Linked DNA regions of Homo sapiens. The protein of the gene in region 7 purifies or fractionates together with the protein of the main gene of each other region. This does not show direct contact. Each region holds a gene or a part of one and is shown on either strand. Other genes may lie near its edges.

Region 1 (4,242 bases), on a different chromosome or scaffold from region 7:
ACTGTCCTTCACCAGAGGACACAAGATACTTTTGGGAAAAGAACACTTTGTAGTTTCTTCCACTCCAGAGGTAAGAGACCGCCACCCAGTTCCCATCAGTTCTGCTGTACCTCAGAGGGCAGAGTATCATCCACCAGAATGTTGGGGCCAGTCGCATCAGGGCCAAAAGCCCAGATGGAACGGGCAGCCAGCAGATCCCAATCGTACTTGGTCTGGAAGAACTCTCCCAGCTTCTTCCTGGGGAAGGGAGGAGACAATGGAGCTGTCAGCCAGCTCTGTGATTGCTGGTCCTGGAGCCACAGACCCTCCCTTCCTGGAAGACAGTCACTTCATCCTACCCACTGTGCCCAGAACAAGAGCAAAGGCAAAGACATAAATGCTCCCCAGAAAGATGTGTGCTCTTAGAGACCCGGCAGTTAAACTGTGGCATCCCTGCCTCCTTTCGACCCTGGCGTCAGAGCCCTGTTCTCACCTGTTCCACGTAATCTGGACCACCTCATTCTCTATGTCCTCTGCCAGGCCCTTCTCAAGAGGCTCAGCAATCATGGTGATCTTGTTCCTGGTCAGAATGGAAATGGGTGGTAAGGACGGCTAACAGAACAGCAGAAGAGGCATTACTAAGAAAAGGGTAACAAGACGGACAGCTGAGGAAGTGACATCAGTGAAAGCCACAGGGGCCAAGCGTGGTGGTTCAGACCTGTAATCCCAGCACTTTGAGAGGCCAAGGCAGGAGGATCACTGAAACCCAGGAATTTGAGGCTGCAGTGAGCTATGGCTCACACCACTGCACTCCAGTCTGGGTGATACAGCAACATACTGCCTCTTAAAAACAAACAGCCAGGCGCGGTGGCTCACCCCTGTAATCCCGGCATTTTGGGAGGCCGAGGTGGGCGGATCACAAGGTCAGAAGATCGAGCCTACCCTGGCCAACATGGTGAAACCCCATCTCTACTAAAATACAAAAAATTAGCTGGGCGTGGTGGCGTGCGCTGGCACATGCCTGTAATCACAACTACTCAGGTTGAGGCAGGGGAATCACTTGAACCCAGAAGGCGGAGGTTGCAGTGAGCCGAGATTGTGCCACTGCACTCCAGCCTGGCGACCGTGCAAGACTCTGTCTCAAAAACAAAACAGAACAAAAAAAAACCCCAGACAAACAAACAAACAAACAAACAGAACCTGGGCAACAAAGCAAGAGACCCCATCTCTATAAAAAATTAGCCAGCCGGGTGCGATGGCTCATGCCTGTAATCCCAACACTTTGGGAGGCTGAGGCAGGCAGATCATGAGATCAGGAGTTCGAGACCAGCCTGGCCAACACAGTGAAACCCCATCTCTACTAAAAATACAAAAATTAGCTGGGTGTGGTGACACTCACTCCCTGTAGTCCTAGCTACTCGGGAGGCTGAGGCAGGGGAATTGCTTGGACCCGGGAGGCAGAGGTTCCAGTGAGCTGAGATCGAGCCACTGCACTCCAGCCTGGGCTACAGAGTGAGACTCTATGTCTCAAAAGAAAAAAAAAAAAAGAAAAACAAACCCAGGTGTGGTTAGCACACCTGTAGTCCCAGCTACTTGGGAGGCTAACTAAGGTAGGAGGATCGCTTGAGCTCGGAAGGTTGAGGCTGCAGTGACCCATGGTGGCACCACTGTACTCCAGCCTGGGTGACGAAGTGAGACCCTGTCTCAAAAAAAAAAAAAAAAAAAAAAAAGCCACAGTATCAGGGGCAAGGTGGAGCAAAAAGGGCAAAGGGCTCATCTTTCTTTCATTTCAATCTACTGGTCTTTATGAAAGTAAGGTTTAAGCTGGGCGTGGTGGCTCATGCCTGTAATCCCAGCATTTTGGGAGGCCGAGGCGGGCGGACTGCCTGAGGTCAGGGGTTCGAGACCAGCCTGGGCAACATGGCGAAACCCCACCTCTACTAAAAATACAAAAAATTAGCCAGGTGTGGTGGTGCGTGCATGTAATCCCTGCTACTGGGGAAGCTGAGGCACAAGAATTGCTTGAACCTGGGAGGCAGGGGCTACAGTGAGGCGAGATCGTGCCACTGTACTCCAGCCTGGGCGACAGAGCGAGACTGTCTTAAAAAAAAGAAAAAAAAAGTAAGGTTTAAGCTGGGCATGGTGGCTCACACCTGTAATCCCAACAATTTGGGAGGCCAAGATGGGAGGAACACTTGAGCCCAAAAGTCCAAGACCAGTCTGGACAACAAAAAATAAAAAAATTAACAGATGGCCTGGTGTGTGCCCATAGTCCTAGCTGCTTGGGAGGATTGCTTAAGCCCAGAAAGTTGAGGCTGCACTCCAGCCTGTGTCAAAAAAAAAAAAAACAAAAAAACAAAAAGTGAGTAAGATTTGGAGTAAACTTTTAAGATAGTCATTTTATAGAGACAAAGTGGCAGTTATGAAACTCCTCTTGGGAATACCCAAGGCGAATAATCCCATGTCATTGTGTTCAAAGGCAGAAGGGCTGAGAGGGCTGGAGTGAAACTCAAGTATTGTAAGCACCCCCTATTCTGAGCTGTAGAGGTCTCTATGTGCATAGTGCTCATGGTGGGGGTAGAGGTGGAAGATAAAGGAGAGAGAGTGTCCAGGAGGCTGCAGTCCCAGGGACACTGTGCTCCCAGCTTACTTCTTATTAGGCGTTTCAGCAAAGCACTTGAGGGAGGATGTTTCCACCACCGTCTCACAAAACGTGACAACTGGGTCAGCCACCTGGGAAACAGAAAATAAATTACTGAAGCGAGGTCTAATTTTGTTGGAAGGGCAACCATTTACCTAAGGGAATTCAGAAGCTCCCTTGACACTACCTCTGTGAAAACCCCAACTGCCTTAATCAGCACAAGTGATAAGTACAACAGCAGGTTAAAAGAGCTGTCCAAATCATCACCAAAAAGCCCAAGAAAACTTACTGTAGTAAAGAAATTAGATTCCTGAGCCAAGAGTAAGTGGGGTATCAAACTAGGGCCTTAATTCTAGTCTTCAAAGGTAGCTCTCAGCATCCATTCAGCCATCTACCACCATTCACTGAACAACCCCCATGGGTCTGACAGAGCTGGTGCTGAGACCCACTGGCGTGCACCCATGTCATTCTCAACCCACAGCATCTGAGTGAAGCTCTGCCCTGAAGCCCCAACATGGTCTGCTGCCCAGGAAACCCAGTGTTTTCTATGACACCAATCCTTCCTCCTTCCTAGATACATCAGTAGAGGAGTCTAAGAGGGGTATTGAGGGTCCTCCACAGGGCCTTGGAGAAAATACGACTCAACTAGGACAAGGAGGCCAAGCAACACATGGTTTGAGGGGCTACATCAAGGCTTGACAAAGAATCTGGGAGAGACAGTCCCCACCCTCTCCTTGAAACCACCCACTCTGAGACCTAATCACCACCCATGGGTTAATTGTTTAATTGTGCAATTATTTCCCTAACAAAGGACCAAGAATAACTTTGGCTTGGGAGCCTTTATTTTCTTTTTCCTTTTTTTTTTTTTTTTTTTGAGACAGAGTCTCGCCCTATCACCCAGGCTGGAGTGCAATGGTGCGATCTTGGCTCACTGCAACCTCTGCCACCCGGTTTCAAACAATTATCCTGTCTCAGCCTCCTGAGTAGCTGGGATTACAGGTGCCCGCCACCATGTCTGGCTAATTTTTGTATTTTTAGTAGAGACAGAGTTTCACCATGTTGGTCAGGCTGGTCTTGAACTCCTGACCTCAAGCAATCCAACCGCCTTGGACTTTCAAAGTGTTGGGGTTACAGGCGTGAGCCACCGTGCTCGGCCTGTTTTATTATTTTTCAATGCATTTATTTTTTGAGACAGGGTCTTGCTCTGTCACCCATGCTAGGGTGCAGTGGCATGATCGTAGCTCACTGCAGCCTCGAACTGCTGGGCTCAAGCAATCCTCCTGCTTCAGCCTGCGGAGTAGCTGGGACTATAGGTGCAAGCCACCACACCTGACTAATTTTTATTTTTTAGTTTTTTGAGACAGGGTATGACTCCATCTCAAAAAGGAGAGCAATGGCACAATGATTGCTCATTGCAGCCATGACCTCCTAGGCTCAGGTTGGAGAGCAATGGCACAATCACAGTTCATTGCAGCCTTGACAGTCTAGGTTCAGGTGATCCTCCCACCTAAGCCCCCCAGTAGCTGGACTACAGGTACATGCCACTGCACTGGGCTGGTTTGTAGAGACGAGGTTTCACTATGTTGCCCAGATTGGTCTCAAACTGGGCTCAAGCAATCCTC
Region 2 (5,145 bases), on a different chromosome or scaffold from region 7:
AAGAAAGAACAGTTGCATTTAAAATGGATGATCTGACACCTTCCGGTTCCTTAACACAAAATTACAAAGTAAGTTCCCTTTAAAAGACAAAATGTAAATACTCTTTATATCATGCAACAATTCCCATGTTTAAGTCTACCATTCATCTTTTAAATGAAAAATACACATTTTAAAATGCTAACAACGGTTTTGACAGAGAAGCAAGGCTGTATCAATTACCGAAGATGTTTCCAGTGTAAATCATAATATTTCCTCTATTCAGGATACCTTTTTTCTACCAGTAAGAGTACCAAGTCATTAAAGATTCTTGTCTATATTTTCATGTTATATAGAATTTCTTTCACTTAAAAAATTAGAATTTTCTATCTTTTCAATAGAATACCTGTTAAAAATATACCTGTTAAAAACACACAAGTATCTGGTGCAAATGAAACCTTTGAGTGGAGTACACAATCTTTAAACGACAGTTGGAGATTCCACTAGAACCCCAGCACTGCCTTCGTTTCCGTATTGCTCGTCTCCAGTTCACATTTTGTTGGCCCACAAGGCTCCACCGGGCCCAAATCCTCCCCCGACAACCACCATTGTACTCATTACATATAGAGAAAATTATGTATGGCTCTCATGGCCAAATCCAGGCAGAAAAGAGGCAGAAAGAGACTCGAACAATTTTTCAAATGCGAATACCACCTAGGGGTAATGCACGACGGTCTTCCAGTTTTAAGTCTCAAGTTCTCCAACTAAAATTACTTAAATAAAAGTACCAGCCTACTCCACTCCTCCCCCTTTAAAAACTACAGGAAGAGAGGGTTTCCCTTTACCGACTTTTCCCACTTTGACTTCTCTCCTCCAGCGGCCCAGGCCCCCGACGACCCCAGCCCCTAGCCAGAAACCTCCGCCCCTGCACTCCCCTCCCCCACCAGTGGCCAAGCCCGCCCCCGGCCTCATTTATCCTGGAGCCTTTTCTGAATCGCGCAACCAATGGCAAACGCGAAGCCGAGAGCCACCGCGAGCGCAGGCGGAGGCGGAGGAGGTGTCGCCCAGACACCCGCCCAGGACGCTGCGGGATCCCATCCCCCACCACTCCGGGGCCGGGCCGCCCCCACTCGCGCGGTGCCCAGGGCCCGAGAAGGGCGCACGGGGTGGGGCGCGTCGCCCGCCTGTCTTGCCCCCACCCCCTGCCCCCCTCACCCACTCCCCCACCCCTCCTCGCAGCATTTCCGTCCATGCCAGCCTTAGAAACGTGCCTGCGGCTTTGCTGGGGTTACACTTCTAATGCCATTAAAGCCACCAGGCGAGTTCGGGATTGTGACTCTGGTTTTGTTGTTAATAACCTATTTTGAAAAATCGAATGATTAAAACTACGGTAACTAGCGCTGAGGAACTGCCTGTTAGTACCTCTGCCCATTTCCTCATTAAAAAAAAAAAAATCAATATTCCAGCCCTCCCTCCCAGGATCCGCCCAGACCAGATAACCCTTTACAAACTCGAGTTGTGACCGTCAGCGCCCCGCTTGGTGCCGGCTGCGGTTCCTTTAGCATTTTCCTTCTTCCTCCTCCCCCTTCTCAGAGTCCCTCTCCCAATCTCGTTTCCCCTCCCCCTCTTCCTCTCGCTCGCTTTTTTCTCCGAAACCCACTCTAATTGAGGCTCTGGGATTCCTCACGTGAGACGTTGATTTGTAGTTTGAACACGTGGCTCATTCAAAAAGCCGGACACTCGGAGCGGATTTTTTCCGCCTCCTGCGCCTTCCTCCCTCCTCCTCCTCCTCCTCTCCCCTCCCTCCTGCCAGTCACCCTTCTGGGTTTTTTATGGGGAGGCGGCGCCTGCCTCACGTAGTGTGATATTTTCACAGTCCGCTGGCCGAAGCCAAAGGGGTTGGGAAGGAAGAGACAAAAAGTAGTTTTTTCCCCTCCTCCTCCTCCTTTCTCTTGCTAATCCCGCCTCCTCCTAAGACTTAGGAAGACTGGTGGATGCGTTTGGGTTGTAGCTAGGCTTTTTCTTTTCTTTCTCTTTTAAAACACATCTAGACAAGGAAAAAACAAGCCTCGGATCTGATTTTTCACTCCTCGTTCTTGTGCTTGGTTCTTACTGTGTTTGTGTATTTTAAAGGCGAGAAGACGAGGGGAACAAAACCAGCTGGATCCATCCATCACCGTGGGTGGTTTTAATTTTTCGTTTTTTCTCGTTATTTTTTTTTAAACAACCACTCTTCACAATGAACAAACTGTATATCGGAAACCTCAGCGAGAACGCCGCCCCCTCGGACCTAGAAAGTATCTTCAAGGACGCCAAGATCCCGGTGTCGGGACCCTTCCTGGTGAAGACTGGCTACGCGTTCGTGGACTGCCCGGACGAGAGCTGGGCCCTCAAGGCCATCGAGGCGCTTTCAGGTGGGCCCGGGCCTGGCCCCACCCGGGCTCTCGCCCCAGCCCTGCACCGCCCGCCCAGGCCCACCGGGTGGCTCCGCGGGCCCCAGGCCCGGCGCGCTGGGGGAGCGGGGGTGAGGCCTGAGCGCCCACACCCACGCGCGTGGGGGCCGGGGCTCTCCTCAGCTCCGGCTCCCACTCCGGCCCGCGGCTCTGCTTCCCCGGCCGGGGTTTGCTGGGTGAGGGCGAACGCGCTGTCAAGAAAGCCCCGGCGCTGGCTAAGGGGGGCGCGGGGCTGGGGGAGGCGCGCTCCCCCGGCGCCCCGCCCGGGCCCAGGCGCGTGCTCCAGGCCCCGGCACGCTGGGCCTCGGGGGCCGAGCTAGAATGCCCGCCTGTGCCTCGTTCCTTCCTGCTTTCCTCGGTCGTTATTTACGGCGCTGTCTGTGCTGCGCCCCGAAACCCCCGGCCGTGGAGAACGGAAAGTGGCCTCGACCGTGCTGCCGAGTGAGACCGCGAGGCTGGTGCCTCGCACAGGCGGCCCCGCGCTTCCTCCCCACCCTGTGGGAGGAGAGAGTGTGTGCCCGGTTTCCCCGTTCCACCTCCCCTGGTCCGACGAGCGATAGGGGCAGGTGGGCGGGGGCGGCTGGTCGCCTGGAAGGGAGTCGCCGCCACGCACCGGCCGCCCGCCGCTCTCCGGGCCCTGGCGCGGGGCTGCGGCCTCCGGGTATGGCTCCGCCAGGGCGAGGGACGGTGCCGGGCGGAGCAGGACGCCCAGGGGGAAGGCTGCGTTGGGGTCCCCATGGGAGCCCCGTGCCTTTCGGCTTCCCTTTTAATCAATTCAGACGTGGTGCGGGCGCCTCGCCGTCCTTCGCGCCTGGTTCAGCCTGTGCCGAGCTGCGCCTCTGCCAGTTCTCCCGTTCGTGGTCTCCCCTGCCGTCCCCGACCCTTTCTCGCCACTCCCTGTCTTCCTCAAGCCCACCGCTGAGTGTTCCCGGCGGGTCTGGGCTGAAGCAGAGGGCAGGGCCAGGGCGCCCCCTCCTGAAGAAAGCCAGGGGAGCCCCCTGCCCCGAGTCTGCCCTGTGGAGCGTGTCCAGGGCGGTGAGAGGGTGGGCCGCGTCCCTCTTGCGGGCCTCGTGGTGTTGGTGGCCCCCAGGGGTGGGTGGGGGAGGCTTGGAGACTGGACTGATACCCAAGTAGTGGGCCCGCCAGCGGACCCTGCTCCCCAACCATCTGCGAGTTAAATGCCCACGCCGCTCGAGGGGGTCGGCTTCTCCCTCCGCCTGGAGCCGCGTCCGGGCCTCGGGGGCCCTTCGAGGGCCTCAGGAGGCCATTTGTGTCGCCGCTTGGGCTGTGCGGGTCTTCGGGCAGGGAGAGCCGCTGAACTCGGCCGACCGTCTCACTTCTTGTGTGTCCGCAGGTAAAATAGAACTGCACGGGAAACCCATAGAAGTTGAGCACTCGGTCCCAAAAAGGCAAAGGTGAGCTGCTGCTTCTGTTTGCCCCGATTCTGTTCTCACTCCGTTATTGGGTGGAGAGACTCAGCTGAGAACTTCTTGTCCTCTGGTGCTTACCCCCTGCCGTGTGGCGTGGTGTTCCGGTCTTTAATCCTTGCTTTTAAGTTTATGGCGGGGGTGTGTGTGTTGATGATGCTGGGCAGGAATTGAAAGCTTTTCTGTGGCCTCTGCCGCGGGATTATGGTTATTGGTTACAAAATCTCTCGAAAGCTCACAGCTGAATGTCCTCGGTCCGAGCGGGTCAAATTGCTCCTACGGGAAATGGGTCCCAACAAGCAGTTTGGGGGGTTTGCAGGGCTTGGGAAGCAGCGGATGATTCCCCCACCCCTCCAGGAGCAGGAGAGGCGAAAGCAGCTGCGGACACGCGGGGGTCCCTCCTTTCCTTCTCTGTCCGGGGTTGGGAGGCCGTGGGCGCGGCCGAGTGGAGAGGAATTTGCCTCTGCCCTGTGAGCTCGCCAGGGGTATTGGAACGCGTGCGTAAACGCTGGGGCCTCTCTGGCCCAGAAGTGCCTTTGAGTCACTCCGAAGTTCTACAGGTTCCTGCAGTCAGCACCTTTGTCTCCCCGCTTTCCACCCCACTCCTCCTGGGTACATTTTTGCTTACAACCACCAAAAGATGAAGACAGGAAGATTCGTACTACTTAAGGACGGGGATTTCTCGTCTCCGAGATCATGTGTGTAGTATGTCGCTTTACAGAATGTTTATAGACTGTTTTAGCCTCTGAAGCATTTTGGAGACATGGCTCTTTCCCTTTTTCTTTTTCTTATGAAGCCTTATGGAGCAGTGGAGACTCCTTTCCTTTCGCTAGAGCAGGCCGGATTCCGGCTCTATTTTTTTGTTTTGTTTTGTTTTTTAAAACCTTCAGCCAACTCACACCATAGATTCCGGCTCTAACTGCAATTGGAAAGGCACTGCTCCCTCCCAGTCGCACCGGGGTGGGCCTCTAAGCCTTTCTGGATTTTGCATGGTGGGGTTAGGGTTTCTGCCTGCCCCTCTCCCATCCCCCCAACTCCCAACCTGAGCCAAATAATAAGCTGAAAGTTAATTTAAATCAGGGCTGCGTGTATCTGGTTAGATATTGGTGAGAGAGTGTGTGCTGGAGAGCAGGAGGGTTTGCTATGCATTTCTCTGGTGCTGTGCAGAAATAGATGGCTACAAAACATCTCATCTGTATGCCTGTGTAGATTTCAGCTCTCTTCCCAGGCAAAGCATTTTCACAAATCTTGTTTTTAAGGATGAGTTGGTTTGGATTTTTCTTGTTCTC
Region 3 (3,990 bases), on a different chromosome or scaffold from region 7:
GAACCTGTCTCAAAAAAATGAAATAGATAAAGACTGGGCGCTGTGGCTCATGCCTATAGTCCCAGCACTTTGGAACGCTGAGGCGGATGGGTGGATAACCTGAAGTCAGGAGTTCGAGACCAGCCTGGTGAAGATGGTGAAGCCCCATCTCTACTAAAAATACAAAAATTAGCTGGGTGTCGTGGTGCAGGCCTGTAATCCCAGCTACTCGGGAGGCTGAAGGATGAGAATCGCTGGAGGCAGAGGTTGCAATGAGCTGAGATAGCGCCACTTCATCCAGCTTGGGCAACAGAGCGAGACTCCGTCTCAAAAAAACAAAAAGGCCGATTTTCAATGTCAGATATTATTCTATCCCATTTTTGAAATTTATTTTTTCTTTTATATATATGAAATATTTTATTTATATATTATATATGTGTGTGTATATATAGATATATAGACATAGGGGTTTTGCTGTGTCGCCAGGGCTAGTCTTTAAGTCCTGGCTTCTTTGGAGGCTGAGGCAGGAGATTCGCTTGAGCTCGGGAGGCAGAGGTTGCAGTGAGCCCAGGTCACGCCATGGCACTCTCCAGTCTGGATGACAGAGCGAGACTCTGTCTCAAACCCACAAGACCTCTCTCTCCCGCTAGTCTATAAAGCTTCTTGACGATAAGGCTTTTGTGCTTGTTAGTGAATACTAGTCCTGTTTCTCCTACCTGACACAGTGAACGCTCATAAGATGTTTGAGTGCTCGCATGAATGAACGACCAGACCCGACTGAATTATTTTTTTTCTTCAGGCTCCTGAGTCTGGTCGACACTTTCAGAGTAGACGTTTCCAAGAGATGATTAAGGACACACATCCGCGCGTCTGTACGTGCAAACTCGAGCAATACAACATAAAGCACTGAAGATGGCGCCACTCAAAAGCAACTAGAAGCCTTCATTTATCAGGCTGGGGCTAGGGAAAATCTGGCCAGTGTTGAAGAATACAAAGCTAACCTTTGCAATTCCTTGCGGTTCTACCGTTCCGTAGGTGCCTTCTAGACCAAGGGCCGCAAGTGGTCAATTCACTAAATCCAACCACAGTCACAGGCCGCTGCTTTGAATTTACCACGCGGAAAGCAGCTTTTCCTGTGCTTCCTGCTTCCCCCGGAAGTGCCTTGCTACGGGAAGTGACGAGAGCCGGGTGGACCCAGGGTGGGGAACTACCTCTTCCTCTCCACGCGGTTGAGAAGACCGGTCGGCCTGGGCAACCTGCGCTGAAGATGCCGGGAAAACTCCGTAGTGACGCTGGTTTGGAATCAGACACCGCAATGAAAAAAGGGGAGACACTGCGAAAGCAAACCGAGGAGGTGAAACGGAGGGACCTGGGGCCAGGAGGGACGCTGAATGGAGCGGAACCCCGGGGTGCGGGAGAAGTGCCCGGGCTGGGATCGTGGGAGCGCGCGGCGGATAACAGCGCGTCCAGACACCGGGCGTGGGTCTTGGCGGGCGGTCGCCCAGGAGTGGTGCGCTCCCCGGGCAGTGGACGCGTCGTTTGCCCGACCGAGCCAGGTCCGCCGTGCGCTGACCTCTTCCTCTGAGCTTATAGGCATCCACAGGTCGGAACTCTGGTAGAGAGGCCCTGTTGGAGCTCGGGAGAGGGCCGGGTGTCCCACGTGGTCCCCGGCGACTTGGGCGCGCCTCACACAGTGCGCAGAGTTGGACCTTCAGTCAGGCTCCACGTTGTTGGCTAAGACAGAACTCCCGGCATGAGCGTGCGCGAAGGAAGTTACACGTCAAGTCAAAGTGGGTACTGGAGGCCGGGTGCGGTGGCTCACGCCTGTAATCCCAACACTTTGGGAGGCCGAGGCGGGCGGATCATGAGGTCAGGAGTTCGAGACCAGCCTGGCCAACATAGTGAAATCCCGTCTCGACTAAAAAATACAAAAATTAGCCGGGCATGGTGGCGCGCGCCTGTAGTCCCAGCTACTCGGGAGGCTGAGGCAGGAGAATTGCTTGAACCCGGGAGGCGGAGGTTGTGGTGAGCCGAGATCGCGCCACTGCACGTCAGCCTGGGCAACAGAGCGAAACTCCATCTCAAAAAAAAAAAAAATGTGGGCACTGGAGCTTTAGAGTAGACTGGAGAGGTCTTAACTTCATCTGCGCACGTGGGCCGCGTCTTTAGTGACTTTTTAAACTCTCGTAAGGGAAGTAGAGTTTGTTTTCCGGTAAGCCGCCCTGAGAAGATGACGTAATTCAGTTATTACGAAAATCTGTTTTACAACTGTTTGACCCACATGAGTTGACTGGATTTCCCATGGAAATGTAAAGGCATGTGTTGCGGTGCTGAGTGTACACCATATTTTTTATATAGGCCAGCAGTGTGCAGTAGTTTTAACCTTGATAGCTGACCGGTGCTTTGCTGTTGCTTCCTAGTGATTTAACTTGTGACTGAGTCTCTGTTCTGAGATCAAGTCAGTGGGAACAAAGATTGTCCTTGAACTTAGGTTGTACGCTACTTAGAATTAACTTTCCTTGTTGGTTTCTCTGTCTTTTGATATGGAGTTCTTACAATAGCAATATTTTAGAATTGTAGGAAGCCGCGGCAGATTTGTACTCAGGTGCAAGAAGGTCGTGGTCCTGGTTTACATTGCATCAGTCAATTGCGTTCAATTTGGCATGCTCAAATCCAGAGGTACATGACCAAACTCTGTTATATTCCAAAAGAGACCACCAGGATGGGAAACTCAGTCTTATTTGGTGGAACCAAGGGATGAAAACGAATAAAATTTTGGAAGGAGACTAGCTTGTTTTTTGTTGGCTAGGAGATTATTCTTAATCTATGATTTGAGAACAGAGACCAGGCCTGAAATTTCCGGGAGGCAGAATTCAGCGTAATATGTACTTCCAACATTGTTCTGGGGCTCTGCCAGAACAGGCTTCTAAGGAGGCTACAACACATGTCTAATTGTTTTCAGTAGTATGAAAAGTTGTAGAGGGTCAGAAAGTTCAAATAGGAGCCACAGTCATCTGTCTTACTTGGTTCTAAGGTGTCACTCCTTCCATATTCTTGTAACTTATTTATTTTATTTTAAATTAAGTACATCTTTTTTACACATGAGTGATAGACTGTGAGTTTTTATAACTTTTTGTTTCATAAAGTGTCTCTTTATTTTATTATTATTATTTTTTGAGATGGAGTTTTGCTGTCGTTGCCCAGGCTTGTTCTCCATGTTGGTCAGGTTGGTTTCAAACTCCCAGCCTCAGGTGATCCGCCCACCTCGGCCTCCCAAAGTGCTGGGATTACAGGTGTGAGCCACTGCATCCTGCCCTTTTATTTTTTGTAGAGACAGAGTCTTACTGTCACCCAAGCTAGAGTGCAGTGGCATGATTATAGCTGACTGCAGTCTTGAATTCCTGGGCTCAAGCAATCCTCCCACCTCAGCCTCCTAAGTAGCTAGGAGTATAGGTGTGCTGCTACACCTGGCTAATTAAAAAAAAAATTTTTTTTTTTGAGACAGTCTTGCTGTGTCGCCCAGGCTGGAGTGCAGTGGCATGATCTCAGCTCACTGCAACCCCCGCCTCCCGGGTTCAAGCAGTTCTCCTGCCTCAGCCTCCCGAGTAGCTGGGACTACAGGTGCGTGCCACCATGCCTGGCTAATTTTTTTGTACTTTTAGTAGAGATGAGATTTCACTGTGTTAGCCAGGATGGTCTCCTTCTCCTGACCTCGTGATTCGCCCTCCTTGGCCTCCCAAAGTCCTGAGATTATAGGCATGAGCCACCGCGCCCAGCCTAAATTTTAAACTTTTTCAATAGAGACGGGGTCTCGCTATATTGTCCATGCTTGCCTGGAACTGCTGGCCTCAAACAATCCTCCTGCCTTGGCCTCCCAGAGTGCTGAGATTACAGGCATGAACCACTGCACCTGGCCCTAAACTGTCTTTGTATAAATTCATTTGCTCTTGTAAGATAGGCAAAGTGCAGAATTCCTGTTTTGGAGTTAGAGGCTGCAGTGAGCTATGATCA
Region 4 (3,500 bases), on a different chromosome or scaffold from region 7:
AAAATAAAAGTTTCTACCTCTCAGAATTATAAAAATTAAATTAGGTTTATATGCATATATGTGTATATATGTGGGTGTGTGTACGTGTGTGTGCGTATACGGTTATCTTTTAGAGTAGTGCAGAGTAAGCACTTTTAAATTGTTAGCTAAAATTATTTCTTCTGAAATTCTCACTCACCTCAGCCCCTTCCTCTCTACCAGAACTCTAGTTCTATCCCATTCTCTGCTTCTGCTGTTGGTTTGGATATGCTTTTCAACTCACACTACATTCTGCTACCAGATTAATCATTTTAAACTACCACTTTATTAACATTAATAGTTCCTTGCTCTAAATTCCTTCAACAGTGCCTACAACATTCAAAACACGTGCAAACTCCTTAGCCCAGCATTCAAGGCCTTCCACGATACAGCTTCACCCCAGCTGCCTTTTCAAGCCTTTTCTCAGGTATTTCCACACTTCTGACTGCTGCCACGGCTGCTTCCCTGACGCTGACATGCTCTGCCATCTGTTCACTTTGCTTATGCACTGTCAACTTGCCTCCTCCATTAATGCCATCCTTGATTCAACAGTGATGCTCCTTCCTTCTGAGTGCTGCAAGTGATCAGCAGCTTTCTAAGGTATTTGTCCAGGAGGCTCATGTTGCCTTGTGAGACTTTTTTCCATTTTTCCCCCATAACTTGAATATCTTACCTTCATTCCTTTTCTTAAGTCTTAGTCCATGCTGAGTTTAAGAGCCCGCCCTTTCTCTGAGCTATCGAGCGTTAATTACTCAGAACTCTGGTGTCACCCTCTTCACACTGGAGAGCAGCCAAGCTCTGTGAAGCTTGTTACTCTTCTCCGCTCCACTCTCCAAAACTTTGGAGATGAGCTCCTCCACAAGACTTGTGTCTTACTCATGTCTGTATGCCTTGTAAGCCAAGACGTACCCTCTCAAATAAATGTTTAACTCAACAAAGCAGAAGCTCCTTGACTGACTACAATGCACATTTCTTCATATCCCCCTCAGGATCAAGGGGTGTACACACTTGCATAGCTTCCTTTGAACTGACTTTCAATCAAAAAGTAAGGCACGTGGAGATCAGCTAAGCCCCAAAACCTGAGTGTGGGATTGGTGTAAAGCAATACTCATCAACTGCCAGGTAGTTCTGCCACAGGCTTTCGCTGGCCCTGGTAGAACAAGGGAGCAGCTGTGCTTGGCCGGTGTAGCAATTTCTGAGCATGATACGTTCTCATCCTCTGAGATTATCCAACACTGCAAACCACTTTCAGGCACACTGAATAATTAACTGCTCAAAATAAAAAAATCATCTCTTACCTTTTTGCTTCTCATATATGAAAGGCGGCCCTCATGCGCATCAGGGTAAGTGCAAAATAGATATGTGGTGATGGCATGCTTTAAAAAGGAGTCGCCAAGCATTTCAAGCCGCTCCAGGTTAAATCCATCACTAGCGTTTGACAGAGTCAAAGCCTGAAGAATAAGTCCAGGATTGGGGCCAAGAGTCCTTGAGGAGTACCCAATAGAAGGGCTCTGCTCAGAATCCATCCTGCCCTTGAGCACTTGAATAGTGTCTGTCGTACCAGGCATTACGGCCATCACAGGACTTCCATCTGAGGTAGATTTGTTAGCATTTCCATCAAGGTATTTATTACTCAGGAGAGTACATTCATCGCTGGGCTGGGGCTGGTTCTCGTAACTGTATAAATTCTGAATGGAATATGAGGTAGTTGGTTGCACGGGTATTTCCTGCTTGTAGTAATTTAGCTGATTTCCTTGGCAAAAGTCTCTGTTAGCTAAATCATAACTGCCATTGGCGAGATTTTGATTGTAAGAAAGACCATTAATTGCTGTAAGATCTGCTGAAACTTCAACGTGGAGCTTACCAGGGGACTCGCTGAGCAACGTTCTGCAGTTCACAGACATTTGGTCATGATTTTCTAGAGAGGAGGTTCTATTAGCACCTTGATGTGCAGCATTTTCAGGGACAATTGTGCTGTGCTTACAGTAATTATCATTTTCAGCTGAAGAGGAGTTAGAAATTGAGATGAAAGATTTGCTGTCAATAGATTTTTTCCACCCGAAGTCTAAGTTAGGGTATCTGCAAAGACATTTTTATAACTTTACATCAGATTCTTCAAAACAGCTAGGCTGAGAGCAACAGCAATTTGAATTTAAAAACAAAAACAAAGATCCCAAAAATGTACTCCTAAACTTTAGAATAGAAGCAAGTTTCCAAATTTTTAATTTACAGTGTAAATTATAAAGTGGGACATGGTTTTATCTACTGCTTTAATCCCTGGCCCTAGACTCTAGGTGTGGTAGTTAAGAAGGTCACGAAGCTTGCAGGCATCCTGCAGGACCTGGGGCCTAGCTTCACGGGTTGGAATCCCAGGCACTCTGGTTAACCCGCTGAGTAACTCTGGGCAACTTACATAAACTCTCTGTGCCTCAGCTTCTGCACCTGAGAAAAGGGCTAACAATTCCTATCTCATAGCACTGTCTTAATGATTAAATGAGCTAACTAACACAGGGTACAGCATTTAAGCTAGTGTTTGGCACTATAGCAACTAACCAATAAATATTGTGGTTATTCCTATTATATTTTAAAATTCCTTCAATCCCTAGAACAGTCTTGATATTGCCAATTGGATAACCAGAACTAATGTGAGTGTTTAAGCCAACAGTTTCTTTAGAATGCAGAGATTTTACTAATGGGAAGAAAATAATGAAGACAAAGAACATGCTAAGGCTATTGCTTTTTAACATATATTTGGATTTTTAAAAGAAAAAACAGACTGAAAATGCTGATGCAGTAACAAAGAACAATTTCATTCTCACTCCAACTGTTATGGCTTAAGCAGTAATGGTTATTTCTGACCTCAGATTCTCATCTCCCTCTGAGACTTGACAAGACATAAGATATCCATTATTTTCTTTTTACTCTTTTAAGAATTATTTTATATACAATTTTAACTTAATTCTGTTCTTTTGCAAACAGGATCTCATGATCTGTGTTCTTTCTGGCTGACTGCACAGGCATACCTAAAATCCGCAGGAAGTGATCTGACTCCCACGCCAGCATCGCTGGCAGTCTGGGCTCTTAGCTCCTCTGCAGTCAAAAGGCAGTGAAGGCGATAAAGTATGCTGGGGAGACAAACAGCTTTTCTCCACAGTGATGCTGGAATTGGATGTATAGCACAGAGTTCTGGAACCAGTATCTTCAAGTAAGGGGAAAAATGGACAGATAAATACAAAGCGCACACACAAAAGAAAAAAAAAAAGACCAATTTCACTAATGGATAAAGAAAATCATAAATGCTAGTAAAACTTAATTTTAAAAAATATTTGTAAAAATAATCCTCTAAGGCCAAATGGGATTTATCAAAGGATTTATGAGAATGATTTTGTGATATATTAATGGGCCAAGTATAAAAACAAAACTCTCAATACTTACCAAAAAGAACATTCAAATAACATTCAACACATAATACTAATTAAAAC
Region 5 (3,298 bases), on a different chromosome or scaffold from region 7:
CGGGGACTACAGGCACGTGTCACCATGCCTGGCTAACCGGATTCTCGATGGCAGCTTTTGAACCCAAGTCCCCATGTCTGAAGATCCCTGGACTTTACAATTTGTGAGCCAATAAACTTCCTCCCACTAAGCAGGACTGAATTCAGTTTCTGTAACTTGTAACCAGAAGTCCTTACTACACCTACTGAGGGTGGTTGTGGAGATTAAGTAAATGTAAAATGTGCTTTTTAACAGCAGGTGTTCAGGAAATGGTTTACTGTTATGGAGGAAGTTTATTATGAAGAATCTGGCTACTGGTGGAGGGATTTTGATTTGCCTAAAACCTCAATCAATCAATGATCTGGTTGGGATGAAAACCAAGGATGCCTGGCTCAGAATCTTTTGCTCTGCTTTGCCTTCTCTATTTCTGTGGTCTTGTCAGACAGGCCTACTGCATATAACATCCTATGGGGCAGGTTATGACCTTACGGGTCAACCTGGCCAGGGATGGCAAATACCTGACGCTCACGTGCCCACACTTGAATTCCATGCTCATAAGAGAAACTGCCAAACTATCATGTCAGTATTTCCAAACAGTCTGAAAATTGCTGCAGATCCTCAAAAGGCACTCCAGGCAGCTGCTACTAAAAGTTCTGAGTTGGCAAGTGAAATGAGTCCTGAGGTAGATTTTTTAAATATGGCCATATTTTGAAGCTCCTCCTGTTAAGAAGAATTTGGGCTTAGCCATGTGACTTACTTTGGCCAAAAGATACGTCATAGCAATATCCTCAAGAGCACTCGCATACTGGGCTTGTCTTCTCTTGCGGTTTTTGGAACTCAGCCATGATGTCTAGAATCCTGGGTCAGCCTGCTAGATGCTGGAACGTGTGGCCCAGTTGCCCAGCCAACCACCTGACAGGCGGGCGAGGCCATCTGAGACCAGCCAGTCCCCAGCTGATCTGCCAGCTCACTTCAGCCACACGAGGGCCCAGATGAGATAAGAACCACCACACTGAACACAGCCCAAACTGCCAAGCCACTCACTCAGGAGCTAATAAATGTTTATTAAGGCTACTAAATTTGGGGGTGGTTTGTTATACAACAGTCAGTAACTGAACAAAGGCCCATTTACTATCCCTGATCCAGATCAACCTCTCATTTTACAGCTGAGGAAACTGAGACCTGGTAAGGAAAAAGACTTGCCCAGGGTCATCAACCTGGCTGGCAGCAACAGGGGGAAAGTCCCAGGCCTCTTAGCTCACAATCCAGTATACCCACTGGCTGCTCTATTCTTTCAAGATGGCTGTGAGGATCACAAATGAGGCTTTCAATCTGAAAACATCTAAAGACTGATCCTTTAGGCAGAATCCGGTACCACATTTATCACCATCTCCTTCTGGAGTTTTCAGATGTTAGAAAAATGACAACTGTTGCGCAGCGGAATGGATGTTTTTGCTGCCCCGACTCAGAGGAAGGGCATGTGTATGCACTGTTAGAAGCCAACCTCCCACCCAAGGGCCTGGCTGTGTGCTTTCCCAGGGGCTGGAGCATCCAGGGGCTTTTCTGGAGTTCCAGGATGGGACTCTCGTTCTCCCTGTCCAGCATATGACCCGGTGCCAGCATGACCAGGCAAAGCCTTATGGGCCAAGGTGAGTAGAGCTGATGCCTGCTACCCTTGAAGGTATCTTCCCTGCTTTTCTCACGGTTCTCCAAGCCTGGCATACTAAGGAAGCCTATGGTCACAAGCCCATGATCAACCTGACCCTCAAGCTCTGAAACGTTGAGTTCCTCAGTAAAGCATGCTTGGGTAGGACCTGCAGCAGGCATATAGCACTAGGCTCTGGGGGCAGTGCCTAGTGCTATTGTGCCCTCAGTGTGAGGTTCATTCAGCTCTAAATCCCATTCTTTGGACTTTGCCCAAGTTCCAATCCAGGCTAGCAGCTGTCCCCCATGTTTCACAGATGGGGACACCAAGAGCTAAGGGCAGTAATGACTTGCCAGGGTATTGAAATGGGTCTGTTATAGCTGGCTCTCGCCTTCTGGGCAAGGAAAGATGTGGGTACATGGATGGGTGAAGTATGTTCCACTGAGAGCTCTTCAGGGAGATGAGGCACTCCTTGCAGACCTAGCCCCTTCCTCTGTACACCCTCTTCAGCTCTCCAAATAGAAGCCTTTTGATTTGACTAAGCTGGGCCAAGGCCCAGCCCAATTCCAAGGGGCCTGTTTCTCACCCCATGCCTGCATCTCATGGCCTCAGGGCCTCAGCCTCCACCATGGGCTCTTGACAAATCTCTACTCTCTCCCTGCTGCCCAGGGTCCATGGCAAGCAAATATATGGGGACCGTGATCCCCCTGGGGCAGCTAATACTCAGGCAATGGCCAAGCATGGATTGGGGCTTTTGGCTCAGGTATGAAGCCAGAACTCTGGCCACCTTGGGGCTGGCCTAGTCAGGCCCCAGCAGAGCTTGGGAATATCAAAGCACAGAGCTACACTGGGGCCTCAGAGTGCTCGCCTGCCCAGGATGACAGGCAGGAGGGCTGCTCAGTGAGAGAGACTTCCCGGTGGAGTTTGAGCACTGCCCAAAGCCTCCACCCTCTACCAAAACATGGAGCCAAAGCCCAGGAGGAAGCTTCCCTGGAGGCTGTAGACCGGGTTGGTTTGAAATGGGGAGTTTTCAATAAGGATTCCAGCAGATCTGCAAACTTTGATCAACACGTAAAGATGGAGGGAAAACCTAAAGCCCTTTTTGATGATGGGATTGAATTTTTCTGTGTTGGGGGAAGGCTTCCAGAGGAGAGAACAGGCAATTAAAGAGCAGTCGGAGGGTCTGGGAGACTTCTCAGAGGTGGCGACACCACAGCAGCAGCTTCGTCCTGAGCGGCTATTTCCCAGGTAGAGAAAGTAGGAGCAGGAGGAGTACGTGCCAGGCCTGGAACAAAGCCTATTTCTGGGTGCTGCCCTCCCACAGCTCCATACCAACGAGACCAGCCTAAGTGGCCACATATGAATCCCGCAGTTCACTGGACCAGGGTAGGTACTTGTAACCTATGAGTGATTAGGAAAAAAAATTACAGTGGCAGTCGATTCTCTCTTGGGAACTTGAACATGGGGAAAATGGATCCATTCATTGTGGGGAATGAAGGGGGAAGTAGGTGACATTAGCAGTACACAATGAGCATGTATAAGCAGCACACGTTTGAAGGAACCCGGCTGATTGTTAGAGAACAAATGTCTAGACGGGTGGCCCAAGACAGGGGCAGACAGGCTGCGTGTCTCCGGATGCAAACTTCCTACTGATTGCTGTCACTGGAGTACGCT
Region 6 (4,561 bases), on a different chromosome or scaffold from region 7:
TCATACAGTGGCCACTGTGTACTGAATAACCCATCTAGAAAGCTGAGCATTAATTTTTGTCTTCCCTTTGCCCTCTCGTACCATAGGTGTTCCCAATCCCTGTCAATTCTGTCTCCCTAATTTCTCTCAAGTCTGTCCTTTCTTAGTCTCCAGGGCCTCTAGCATAGTTTATGCCTTCCTCCAGATGTTCTTAATAGCCTCTTAACTGATCTTTTTGCATCTAGATTCTCTGCTTTTCACTTTGTGTTCTACAGTGGCACCAGACTGGTCTTTCTATAACTAGGCTCTGCACATGTTGGTTACTGGTTAAAAAAACCTTAGTTCCTTCCCATTGTCTACAGTGAGTGGTCTTAAAAGCCTGGTGCACAAGATGATTCCTTGGGTTTCAGGAAGTGAATATTAAGAACTCTTATTTATCTTAAGTGGAAATGAAATTAAACCTTACTAATAATACATAGATTAATGGTGATCCAGTGTATATCATAAATACATATGTATGTGTTGAAGATATGTGATCAAATTCTTTTTTACTGAGTACACAATCAAAAAAGTTTGGACACCCATCAGGCTATAGGATTAAAGTCCAGACTCTTTAGCCTGACCCTTTATGGTTTCCCCAGTCTGTTTCTCTATTCTTGTCTCCCATATGCTCCCCAGCAATATCAAAATAACTTGCAGATCCCTAAACACACCTTGTTTTTGAACCTCTATGCCTAGACTGCCCTCCTTGCTCACTACTTGAGGCTGTTGCTATCCTTTATGACCTAGCCTAATTGTTACCTCCTTTGTGATGCTTTCCCCAACTCCCTTTGTCATTGTTCCTAAAAAATGCTTAATTTGCCTTTTAGTGTGGGAGTCATTCCTTTGTATTGAGATTGTGCTTGTTCCACTAGAATGGGTCCCCTAACAGTGACTTTTAGTAGTGTTTAGCAATAGCACACTAAGCACACCCAATAAATATGTGTTCTGTAATTTCCATTTCTGTAATTCAGTGAAAATTACAGCCAAACAGAAAAGGAGATTATAGGTTGAAGTAGCTAGAATATTTTACAATCTGGATTCTTGATGTAGTATAGCATAGAAACGTATGAACTCACAGATTACTGTCCTTTATATAGTCTTTGTTACAACTTCTCAATTCTGCCATTGTAGCACAAAAGCAACCATAGACAATATGTAACTGAATGAGCGTGGCTATTCCACTAAGTTTACTTATGGGCACTGAAACTTGAATTTCATGTAATTTGTATATGTCATAAAATACTCTTGATTTTTTTTTCACGCATTTAAAAATGTAAAAACCATTTTTAGTTCCCAGCTATGCAAAAAACAGGTAGTAGGCTAGATTCAGCCCTTAGGCTATAGTTTTTTAGACCAATAGTTTAGCCTATACAAGATTGCTTATTTTGTAGTTATTATAAAGAACATTTAGGTTTAATAGCAGAAATTGTTTGCCCCAACAGGTCCGTTTTTTATCTGATCTTGTGAATTGTCATGTGATTGCCGCCCCATCAATGGTTGCTATGTTTGAAAATTTTGTAAGCGTAACTCAGGAAGAAGATGTACCTCAGGTAAGAGAACCCCTCATGCTGAATCTTGAGGGGTTCTTGAGGGGTTACTGAATCCTGGTACTTCCATATAGTACCAGGAATTTTTCGCTGATAACCCATTAGCAATAAAGAAAAAAATAACAGCAGACTATCACACTTTAAGTTCTTACTATCTAAAAATTAAGCTGACTGGCACACTGGTGGGTTCTCATAATATCTGTATGTTGATTTAAATGATGCTGTCTAGTAAGATTAGAACTAATATATCTAGAAATGCTCTGTATAAACCAGATGTCTTATTTAAGTCCTATTAAATAGCTTCCATAGGATTTCATTCAAGAATAAATAAAATATGAATGAATATAATTAAAGCATATTTTAAACTTAACTTTTTAAAAATCCTTTAGGTGCGACGAGATTGGTATGTGTATGCATTTCTGTCATCTTTGCCCTGGGTTGGAAAGGAGTTGTACGAAAAGAAAGATGCAGAGATGGACCGCATCTTTGCCAACACTGAAAGCTATCTTAAGTAAGGGCACAGCTCATAGTACTCTTTGTTGCTTAGGTAAAGGATATCTTATATCAGTGATACCATTTGAGTTTCTCAAAAATAAGCTGTAGAGTTCCTGAAGGTATTTTCTAGGTAATCCTGTTCTCCTGCTGTTTTAACTCACTGAGACCTCAAAGTAGTCAGATATGGTTTGCTTACTTTTGCCAGTGCAAAGGACAGTTGGCAATATAGCTTCTTTTAAGCTGCTTTTATATGTTTGTTTATAAAAGACATAAAACACCCTAGTGCAATAGTTCCTCAAATATTAGTGTGGATAAGAATTACCTGTGGTACTTAAAATACTCAGACCCCAACCCCCAGACCTGATAAATTATACAATTTGAGAGAGAGGTTTGGACATCTGTATTATTAACACATTTCACAAGTGGAGAACCACTGTCCTAGCACATACAGTATATTTAGTTCATGTAAATTAATCTTAAATCAAGCTCTTAAAACAGTGGTCCTTAACCCTCCATCCAGCCAGTACTTCTTAAGTAATATGACACATTTCAATTAAAATAGTCACATGTCTTCCCATTACTCATCTCTCCTAAGCCAATGTAAAAGCTTGGTTTATATTGTTAGATACAATAATAATAAATAGGTCTTTTTAGTAAATTTATGCTTAACTATCCAGCAACATGGTAATGGTTATGTGGCCCTTAGGTTTTTACAGATTGATTTTGTTGTTAAGTTTCATTTTCTCTTTTTTAAGTGCTTTTTTTGGATAACTGTTAATAGCTACTTAGTTGGTTATTAAGTAAAGTTAAAAGAAGCTTAAAAAATAAGAATCTTTTGGCCGGGCGCAGTGGCTCACGCCTGTAATCCCAGCACTTTAGGAGGCCAAGGCAGGTGGATCACCCGAGGTCAGGAGTTTGAGACCAGCCTGGCCAACATGGTGAAAACCCATCTCTACTAAAAAATACAAAAATTAGCCGAGCGTGGTGGTGGGTGCCTGTAATCCCAGCTACTCGGGAGGCTGAGGCAGGAGAATTGCTTGAACCCAGGAGACGGAGGTTGCAGTGAGCCGACATGGTGCCGCCACTGCACTCCAGCCTGGGCAACAGAGTGAGACTCCGTCTCAAAAAAAAAAAAAAAAAAAAAAAGAATCGTGTGTGTGTGTATACATATCCTTTCTCTTTTTTATTCAAATGATAGCCCAATATACACACTGTTCTTCACTTGGCTTTTTTTTTTTTTCTTACTATAACTTGGATTTGTTGCATAAAAATACTTAACTCTACTTCATTCTTTTTAACAGTTGTAGGGTATTTCACTTTTTAATGTACCATGATTTCCGTAGTCTCCTGTTGGTGGACGTTTAGGTTATTTTCAATCTTTTGCTCTTATAAACAATGTTTCAGTGAATATCTTTGTGTATATGTTTTTATGTACATGTGCAAATATATTTATGGGGGATATAAATTTTTAGAAATGGCATTGCCGAGTTGAGGGTTCTAAACAATTTTGATAGATTTAGTCAAATTACCTTCCAAAGAGATTATACTTTCCCAAAGAGATTATATCAGTTAACCTCTTTGTCAACAATGTTTGAGACTGAATCTTGACCTGCATCTTGATGATACACAGTACATTATCAAAACAGTTGATATCTGCCACTCCAGTAGGTAAAATGTTATTTCATTGCTTTAATTTGCATTTTAATAACTGTGAGGGTGACTGAGCATCTCTTGTTTTTAAAAGCCTAAATGTAGATTTTCATTTTTATCTTTAGAAGACGCCAAAAGACTCATGTACCCATGTTACAGGTATGGACTGCTGATAAACCACATCCACAAGAAGAGGTAAATGGATTTCAGTCCCTTGTGATACAAACACAGTCAGCTCTTGAATAGATTCTTATCTCTGTAAGATACTCAGACCATTCCATTTTACCCTTTGACTGTGTTTCTACATTTCATGATAGTTCCTTCTCATAGCTCAAGGTGTATGGTAGGTCTTTAATAGATGATAGAATGTAATTGAAATATTCCCTTGTTCTTTGGAATGCCAGCTATTACAGAGTTGACATATATTTATTTAAATGCTTAATTTGAAAAATGTCAAAACAGACAGTTCCAAACAGGTAGACTTTGTAAGTAAAATAAAAACAAAAACTTAGCACCTTTTTTTGTACCATCTTACAAGTTAGCTTACTTTTGTATCCTGTATTTTAAAGGGTAGTGATTTTTTCATTTTGTCTAGTCAAAATGTTAATTATATTAATGATTAAAAATTAATCTGTCTTTAGTATTTAGATTGCCTGTGGGCCCAGATTCAGAAATTGAAAAAGGATCGCTGGCAGGAACGGCACATCCTAAGACCTTATCTTGCCTTTGACAGCATCCTGTGTGAAGCACTGCAGCACAATCTGCCTCCTTTTACACCACCTCCTCACACTGAAGATTCAGTGTACCCAATGCCAAGGGTCATCTTCAGAATGTTTGATTACACAGAT
Region 7 (4,561 bases):
TACTCATACCTAGCATCATCCCAGGCTTGGAATACTGATAAAAGGGCTACGTGATCAGAAAATCTGTTTCCAGCAAAATTTCGATGGATATAGCCCAGCCGCTTTCCTTCATTGATGAAAGGCTCTGGAAAGCAGGTAGCAGCAGCAATGGTACAGATAGCATCTCCCACGCTGAAATACACAAAGACAGTTAAATCCAGACTAGATCACAATGTTGTTGCCAGCAGCTCAGGTAGGACTGTCGACTGTGGGTTGCAGTCTTTATGGCTATGATTCTACTTTTATTTGCAATGAAACTGGCTTAACAAAGAACTTTATAGCTGCTCTCTTCAGAATCAGAAAGAAAAAAATGCTCTGATGCTCTAATGGCCACATATTTATCATAAATTATGACCAAGTATATTTTTCCTTTTATATTCTCTCTTCCCCATCATACCAAATCTCTTAATCTTCAACATTTTCTGATAAAATAAACCTCTTTTCCTGACACCGCTCTTTCAAGACCAACTATTAATAACAAGGGACCCTCCCACCCTGGCCTCCCAAAGTGCTAGGATTCAAGGTGTGAGCCACATTGCCTGGCCTGCTTGCTTTTAACTTTTGAGAAATCAGTGCCCTTTTCCCCATATTGGGCCCAGATATCCACCTACTGGAACTGTTCATTTTTTTAGTGTTACACTGCTCTCAATATCTAGGTATGTTACTTCCCTGAAGAACATTTAGGATTTTTTTTTTGTCTATCTGAGCCAATACTGCTTTTACAGGGAGGAGAAGATTCTGAAATTATTCTGCCACTTAACGAAGAGAAATAAAACAAAGCACTTACTAGAAAATACACCCCATTATCATCATTTTGCCAAAACGAGGCTCAATGGGGAGTTTAGCCAGGATTCGTCCCAAAGGAGTCAACTCATCATTGGCATCTAATGCATCAAGCTCTGTGGGGAGATAGTTCTTTGTGAGCAGAAACAAATGAACACTAATTTTAGGCAGACAAAACATTACTCTAAATTAAGGTTAAGACAGTTTAGAGTTCCTCTTTTGTCAAGCCAATCGCTAATACCATGTCTACGGCCAACAATTCTCTGTACTCAAAAATAGAACAAAATCAAAATCTGGAGCACCCAACATAAAGGTACTACAACTAAATCCTGTAGGTTATAAAAACAAATACAATTCATATGAAGTCTATAAATACAGTATTAACTATAATAGCAGCGTAAGTTTCTACATGCCATAAGAAGTCTGATACCCAGCTGTTAATGTTTTAAAAAAAATAAAATCTAGAGAAAATTCTGAAGTTACATAGTAGATAAATGCTAGATTCAAAATTCAAATTCAGATCTAGCTCCAATGCCCTTAATTTTCACTGTACCTCTAACAAGTTTAGCAAGAAAAAATAAATGTTCCAGGCTGGACACAGTGGCTCCTGCCTGTAATCCCAGCACTTTGGGAGGCTGAGGTGAGTGGATCACTTGAGGTCGGGAGTTTCAGAAGAGCCTGGCCAACATGGTGAAACCCTGTCTTAGTAAAATATAAAAATTAGCCGGGTGTGGTGGTGTATGCCTGTAGTCTCAGCTACTCGGGAGGCTGAGGCAGAAGAATGGCTTGAACCTGGGAGGTGGGGGTTGCAGTGAGCTGAGATCACGCCACTGCACTCCAGCCTGGGCAATGGAGCGAGATTCCGTCTCAAAAAAACAAAAAAAGTTGTAAGAGATTCATATGAAATACTGTGGGTATCATGAGTAAGTTATGTTCTGATCTTTAGTACATAGTTAAGAGATGCCTTTTTAAGTTTTCTTTTCTTTTTTAAAGACTCACATTGTCCCTTTCTTCCTTCTCATTGCTCATTAGAACAGTGACTATACTAACTATCTAAGGTAAGACTGGAGGCCTTACTATTATTATCACAGCCCTGTTGACTACATCTTCATCATCTTGATTCATTTGTAAGTGTTATCTGCCAGAACAAGACAGATGGTATGATTAATATCTGCGTCAAGTAGGTTTGTATTTGTAAGTACCTCTAAGAGTGTGTTCTGCTTCAATCACAGCATCCAAAGGGGGAGGTTCAATTGCTTTGGCCAGAAATTGGCCAATTCCTCCTAGACGCAGAAGTTTTATGCTAAGAGCAATTTCATGCAATGGTGTTCGGAACATCTCTGGTGTCATGTGGGTTTCAAGTCTAAGAGAAAATAAGCATAAAATAACCATCCTCCTTGTGTATACACAGATGTTAATAAACTTTTTGCAGCAAGGTAATCAGGGATACAGAGCTGCCTTTTCCTCATCCTTTTATTTTACAATTACCATCGGACCTTTTATCGTTCACTATACACACTGTTGACAAAATTTAATCTGGTTGCATAGTGGTTTCTGACTTATCCTCACAGCTTGATAGCCTTTTAGGCTGAGAAGAAAAATGAAAAAATTATCCAAAATCGCGAATGTTATTAGCTCCACCCATGGTCTCTTCAGGCCTTGCCTGTTGACAAACATGGGTTAAAAACGACAACAAGACTTTTTGTAGGATGATAACTCATACTAACATTTCTCTACAACCTCCCACCTTCCTAGTTCATGTAATTTTAGTGCCACTAGAAAGGCTCTTATAGATGTATCTTTAAAATCCAAAACTTTTTGACTTCTGACATGACACTTAAAGGAAATGCTCATTAGAGCGTTTTGGATTTCATATTTTCAGATTAGGGATGCCCGACTGGTAAATACAATGCAAATATTACCAAGAAAAAAAATCCAAAACCACTTCTGGTCCCAAGCATTTCAGTTTTAAAAGAGATATCTGACCTGTATAAATTAACAACAGCAAACACTTATTGGGAGATCATGATGTGCCATACACTGTTCAAAGTATTTTACATTATTAAATCATTTAATACTTATACCAACCCTATGGGTTAGGCATTATTTATATTCTTTTTACAACTGAGGAAACAAGAGAGGTTAAGTAACTTAATATTTTATAGAATGAGGGAAATGCAGGCCTAAGGAGTAACCACTTAGTGTTATACAATGTATTAGGCACAAATAATATTAAAATCTAGGTCTCTATATTTCTAAATCTGGCTTATTCTCTAAATGATTTGTGATGAAGATTCTTACGAAACATTTACACCTGATTCCAACATGGCTGGCAAGACTTAGATCAGCTTATATTGGCAGGTTTACATAACTGCACACATCTGTCCCTACAGAGAACAGAACAAAAATCCCTTACTAAAGGTCAAGAATGGGTCTTACCTCTCAAAACGAGCTCGGCTGCACAGGTGAAAGCAGAATCCAGGCCGTACTCGGCCAGCTCGCCCTTTCCGTTGCTCAAGGTTTGTTTTTGATGCCCATACGGTAGCATAGTTGGTCATATTGTTGTGAGCAGTGAAGAGTTTCACTTTCTGCCTACATAGGAAAAAGTGGTTAATTCTAAGACTCATGTGTATTATCAATAACTATTATATATCCACTAAGTAGTGAATGCTTTCCACTATGTAGTTAAAGCCATACCTACTTGTGATGTCTATTCATGAATGGCACAAGTAAGAATCAGCAATCTGACTGCAAACTCCTAGTTGTCAACCTACTAAAAGGCAATGTAACATCCACTTGCCACTTATCAGCTGAACTGCCTTGGCCAAACTTTGCATGCCATTATCTACCTTATAGTTTTTTTGGTAAACATTAAATAAATTAACAAATGCAAAGCATTTAAATGGAATATGGCACATACACAAAAGAAAGTAATTATTTAAGTCATCTCTATTCCAAAGTTTAGTGTAACTTTTAGGATATCTGTATCTAGTGATGCCTGTGTGGTCCATTTGAACCCCCAAGTAACCTCAGATTCCTTCAATGTTACATACAGAGACAGCTGCCACTAAATGACTGGGATTGGCACAGAATGCTATTCATCATTTCCTAAAATGGATGTTGGCAGCAAATTGTTTTCATTGTCAGGACAGACTAAGGAATTATAAAGAGAAGTCATGGGGTACAAGTTGGCCAGATATAACCAAGTTTCAACTTTTTTGTCCTTTCAATTTATCAATTACCATGTAATTCCTGTATCTACACAGAATGTCTCCTGGTATATTTTTCCAGGCTCATCTCATACCAAAATGAAGACCCTTAATCCTTAAAGGAGTGTCCTTCAAGGTAGGATATTTGTCATGTGCTAAACACTGGTCATCTTTATTCATCAAACAGCATGCTATAGTATGGCAGTGATCAATGGAAACACCCAATGGGAAATAAGTGAGACACCAGCAGCCAAGAGCAATGAGAAGTAATCATCAGTTACAGTTTCAAGCTTTGTCACTTTCTACCGTAACTGATTTGCAGTAATCAACAATAATTACTCTTAATTATCAATTACCTATAATGCTATATAGATGCACAATAATTTTGGAGATTTAAGAACACAGGAGTTTAAAAATAAGGTGTTTTTGATTCTGTTAACTGGTAAGAAGTTTCCAGTTAGTAACACTGGAGCAGACAAATAGGTTTCCCAGTAACTTACTTGCAGGAGTCAATGACATAAACAACATCG

What was found.
Region 1: the proteins of DHX9 (region 7) and EFTUD2 purify together in Homo sapiens (affinity purification with mass spectrometry; 2 studies listed by BioGRID, with this or other methods). This does not show direct contact.
Region 2: the proteins of DHX9 (region 7) and IGF2BP3 purify together in Homo sapiens (affinity purification with mass spectrometry; 2 studies listed by BioGRID and IntAct, with this or other methods). This does not show direct contact.
Region 3: the proteins of DHX9 (region 7) and DDX21 purify together in Homo sapiens (affinity purification with mass spectrometry; 2 studies listed by BioGRID and IntAct, with this or other methods). This does not show direct contact.
Region 4: the proteins of DHX9 (region 7) and DICER1 purify together in Homo sapiens (co-immunoprecipitation; 3 studies listed by BioGRID and IntAct, with this or other methods). This does not show direct contact.
Region 5: the proteins of DHX9 (region 7) and RALY purify together in Homo sapiens (affinity purification with mass spectrometry; 3 studies listed by BioGRID and IntAct, with this or other methods). This does not show direct contact.
Region 6: the proteins of DHX9 (region 7) and NCBP1 purify together in Homo sapiens (co-immunoprecipitation; 3 studies listed by BioGRID and IntAct, with this or other methods). This does not show direct contact.

Annotation. Positions count from the first base shown.
Region 1 is NC_000017.11:44,854,446-44,858,687, forward strand, and holds part of EFTUD2 (116 kDa U5 small nuclear ribonucleoprotein component), read right to left. Parts: intron 2,713-4,242; coding exon 2,630-2,712; intron 560-2,629; coding exon 473-559; intron 238-472; coding exon 111-237; intron 1-110. UniProt on the Homo sapiens protein: Required for pre-mRNA splicing as component of the spliceosome, including pre-catalytic, catalytic and post-catalytic spliceosomal complexes. Component of the U5 snRNP and the U4/U6-U5 tri-snRNP complex, a building block of the spliceosome.
Region 2 is NC_000007.14:23,467,181-23,472,325, reverse strand, and holds the start of IGF2BP3 (insulin-like growth factor 2 mRNA-binding protein 3), read left to right. Parts: upstream 1-1,834; 5' UTR 1,835-2,215; coding exon 2,216-2,390; intron 2,391-2,678; exon of another isoform or gene 2,679-2,750; coding exon of another isoform or gene 2,751-3,090; intron 3,091-3,783; coding exon 3,784-3,844; intron 3,845-5,145. UniProt on the Homo sapiens protein: RNA-binding factor that may recruit target transcripts to cytoplasmic protein-RNA complexes (mRNPs). This transcript 'caging' into mRNPs allows mRNA transport and transient storage.
Region 3 is NC_000010.11:68,954,980-68,958,969, forward strand, and holds the start of DDX21 (nucleolar RNA helicase 2), read left to right. Parts: upstream 1-1,190; 5' UTR 1,191-1,246; coding exon 1,247-1,333; intron 1,334-1,667; exon of another isoform or gene 1,668-1,769; intron 1,770-3,990.
Region 4 is NC_000014.9:95,102,030-95,105,529, forward strand, and holds part of DICER1 (endoribonuclease Dicer), read right to left. Parts: intron 3,218-3,500; coding exon 3,042-3,217; intron 2,098-3,041; coding exon 1,317-2,097; intron 1-1,316. UniProt on the Homo sapiens protein: Double-stranded RNA (dsRNA) endoribonuclease playing a central role in short dsRNA-mediated post-transcriptional gene silencing.
Region 5 is NC_000020.11:34,080,911-34,084,208, reverse strand, and holds part of RALY (RNA-binding protein Raly), read right to left. Parts: 3' UTR 1-3,298. UniProt on the Homo sapiens protein: RNA-binding protein that acts as a transcriptional cofactor for cholesterol biosynthetic genes in the liver. Binds the lipid-responsive non-coding RNA LeXis and is required for LeXis-mediated effect on cholesterogenesis.
Region 6 is NC_000009.12:97,643,654-97,648,214, forward strand, and holds part of NCBP1 (nuclear cap-binding protein subunit 1), read left to right. Parts: intron 1-1,463; coding exon 1,464-1,571; intron 1,572-1,957; coding exon 1,958-2,079; intron 2,080-3,838; coding exon 3,839-3,908; intron 3,909-4,354; coding exon 4,355-4,561. UniProt on the Homo sapiens protein: Component of the cap-binding complex (CBC), which binds cotranscriptionally to the 5'-cap of pre-mRNAs and is involved in various processes such as pre-mRNA splicing, translation regulation, nonsense-mediated mRNA decay, RNA-mediated gene silencing (RNAi) by microRNAs (miRNAs) and mRNA export.
Region 7 is NC_000001.11:182,876,874-182,881,434, reverse strand, and holds part of DHX9 (ATP-dependent RNA helicase A), read right to left. Parts: coding exon 4,532-4,561; intron 3,415-4,531; coding exon 3,262-3,414; intron 2,186-3,261; coding exon 2,025-2,185; intron 939-2,024; coding exon 827-938; intron 172-826; coding exon 10-171; intron 1-9. UniProt on the Homo sapiens protein: Multifunctional ATP-dependent nucleic acid helicase that unwinds DNA and RNA in a 3' to 5' direction and that plays important roles in many processes, such as DNA replication, transcriptional activation, post-transcriptional RNA regulation, mRNA translation and RNA-mediated gene silencing.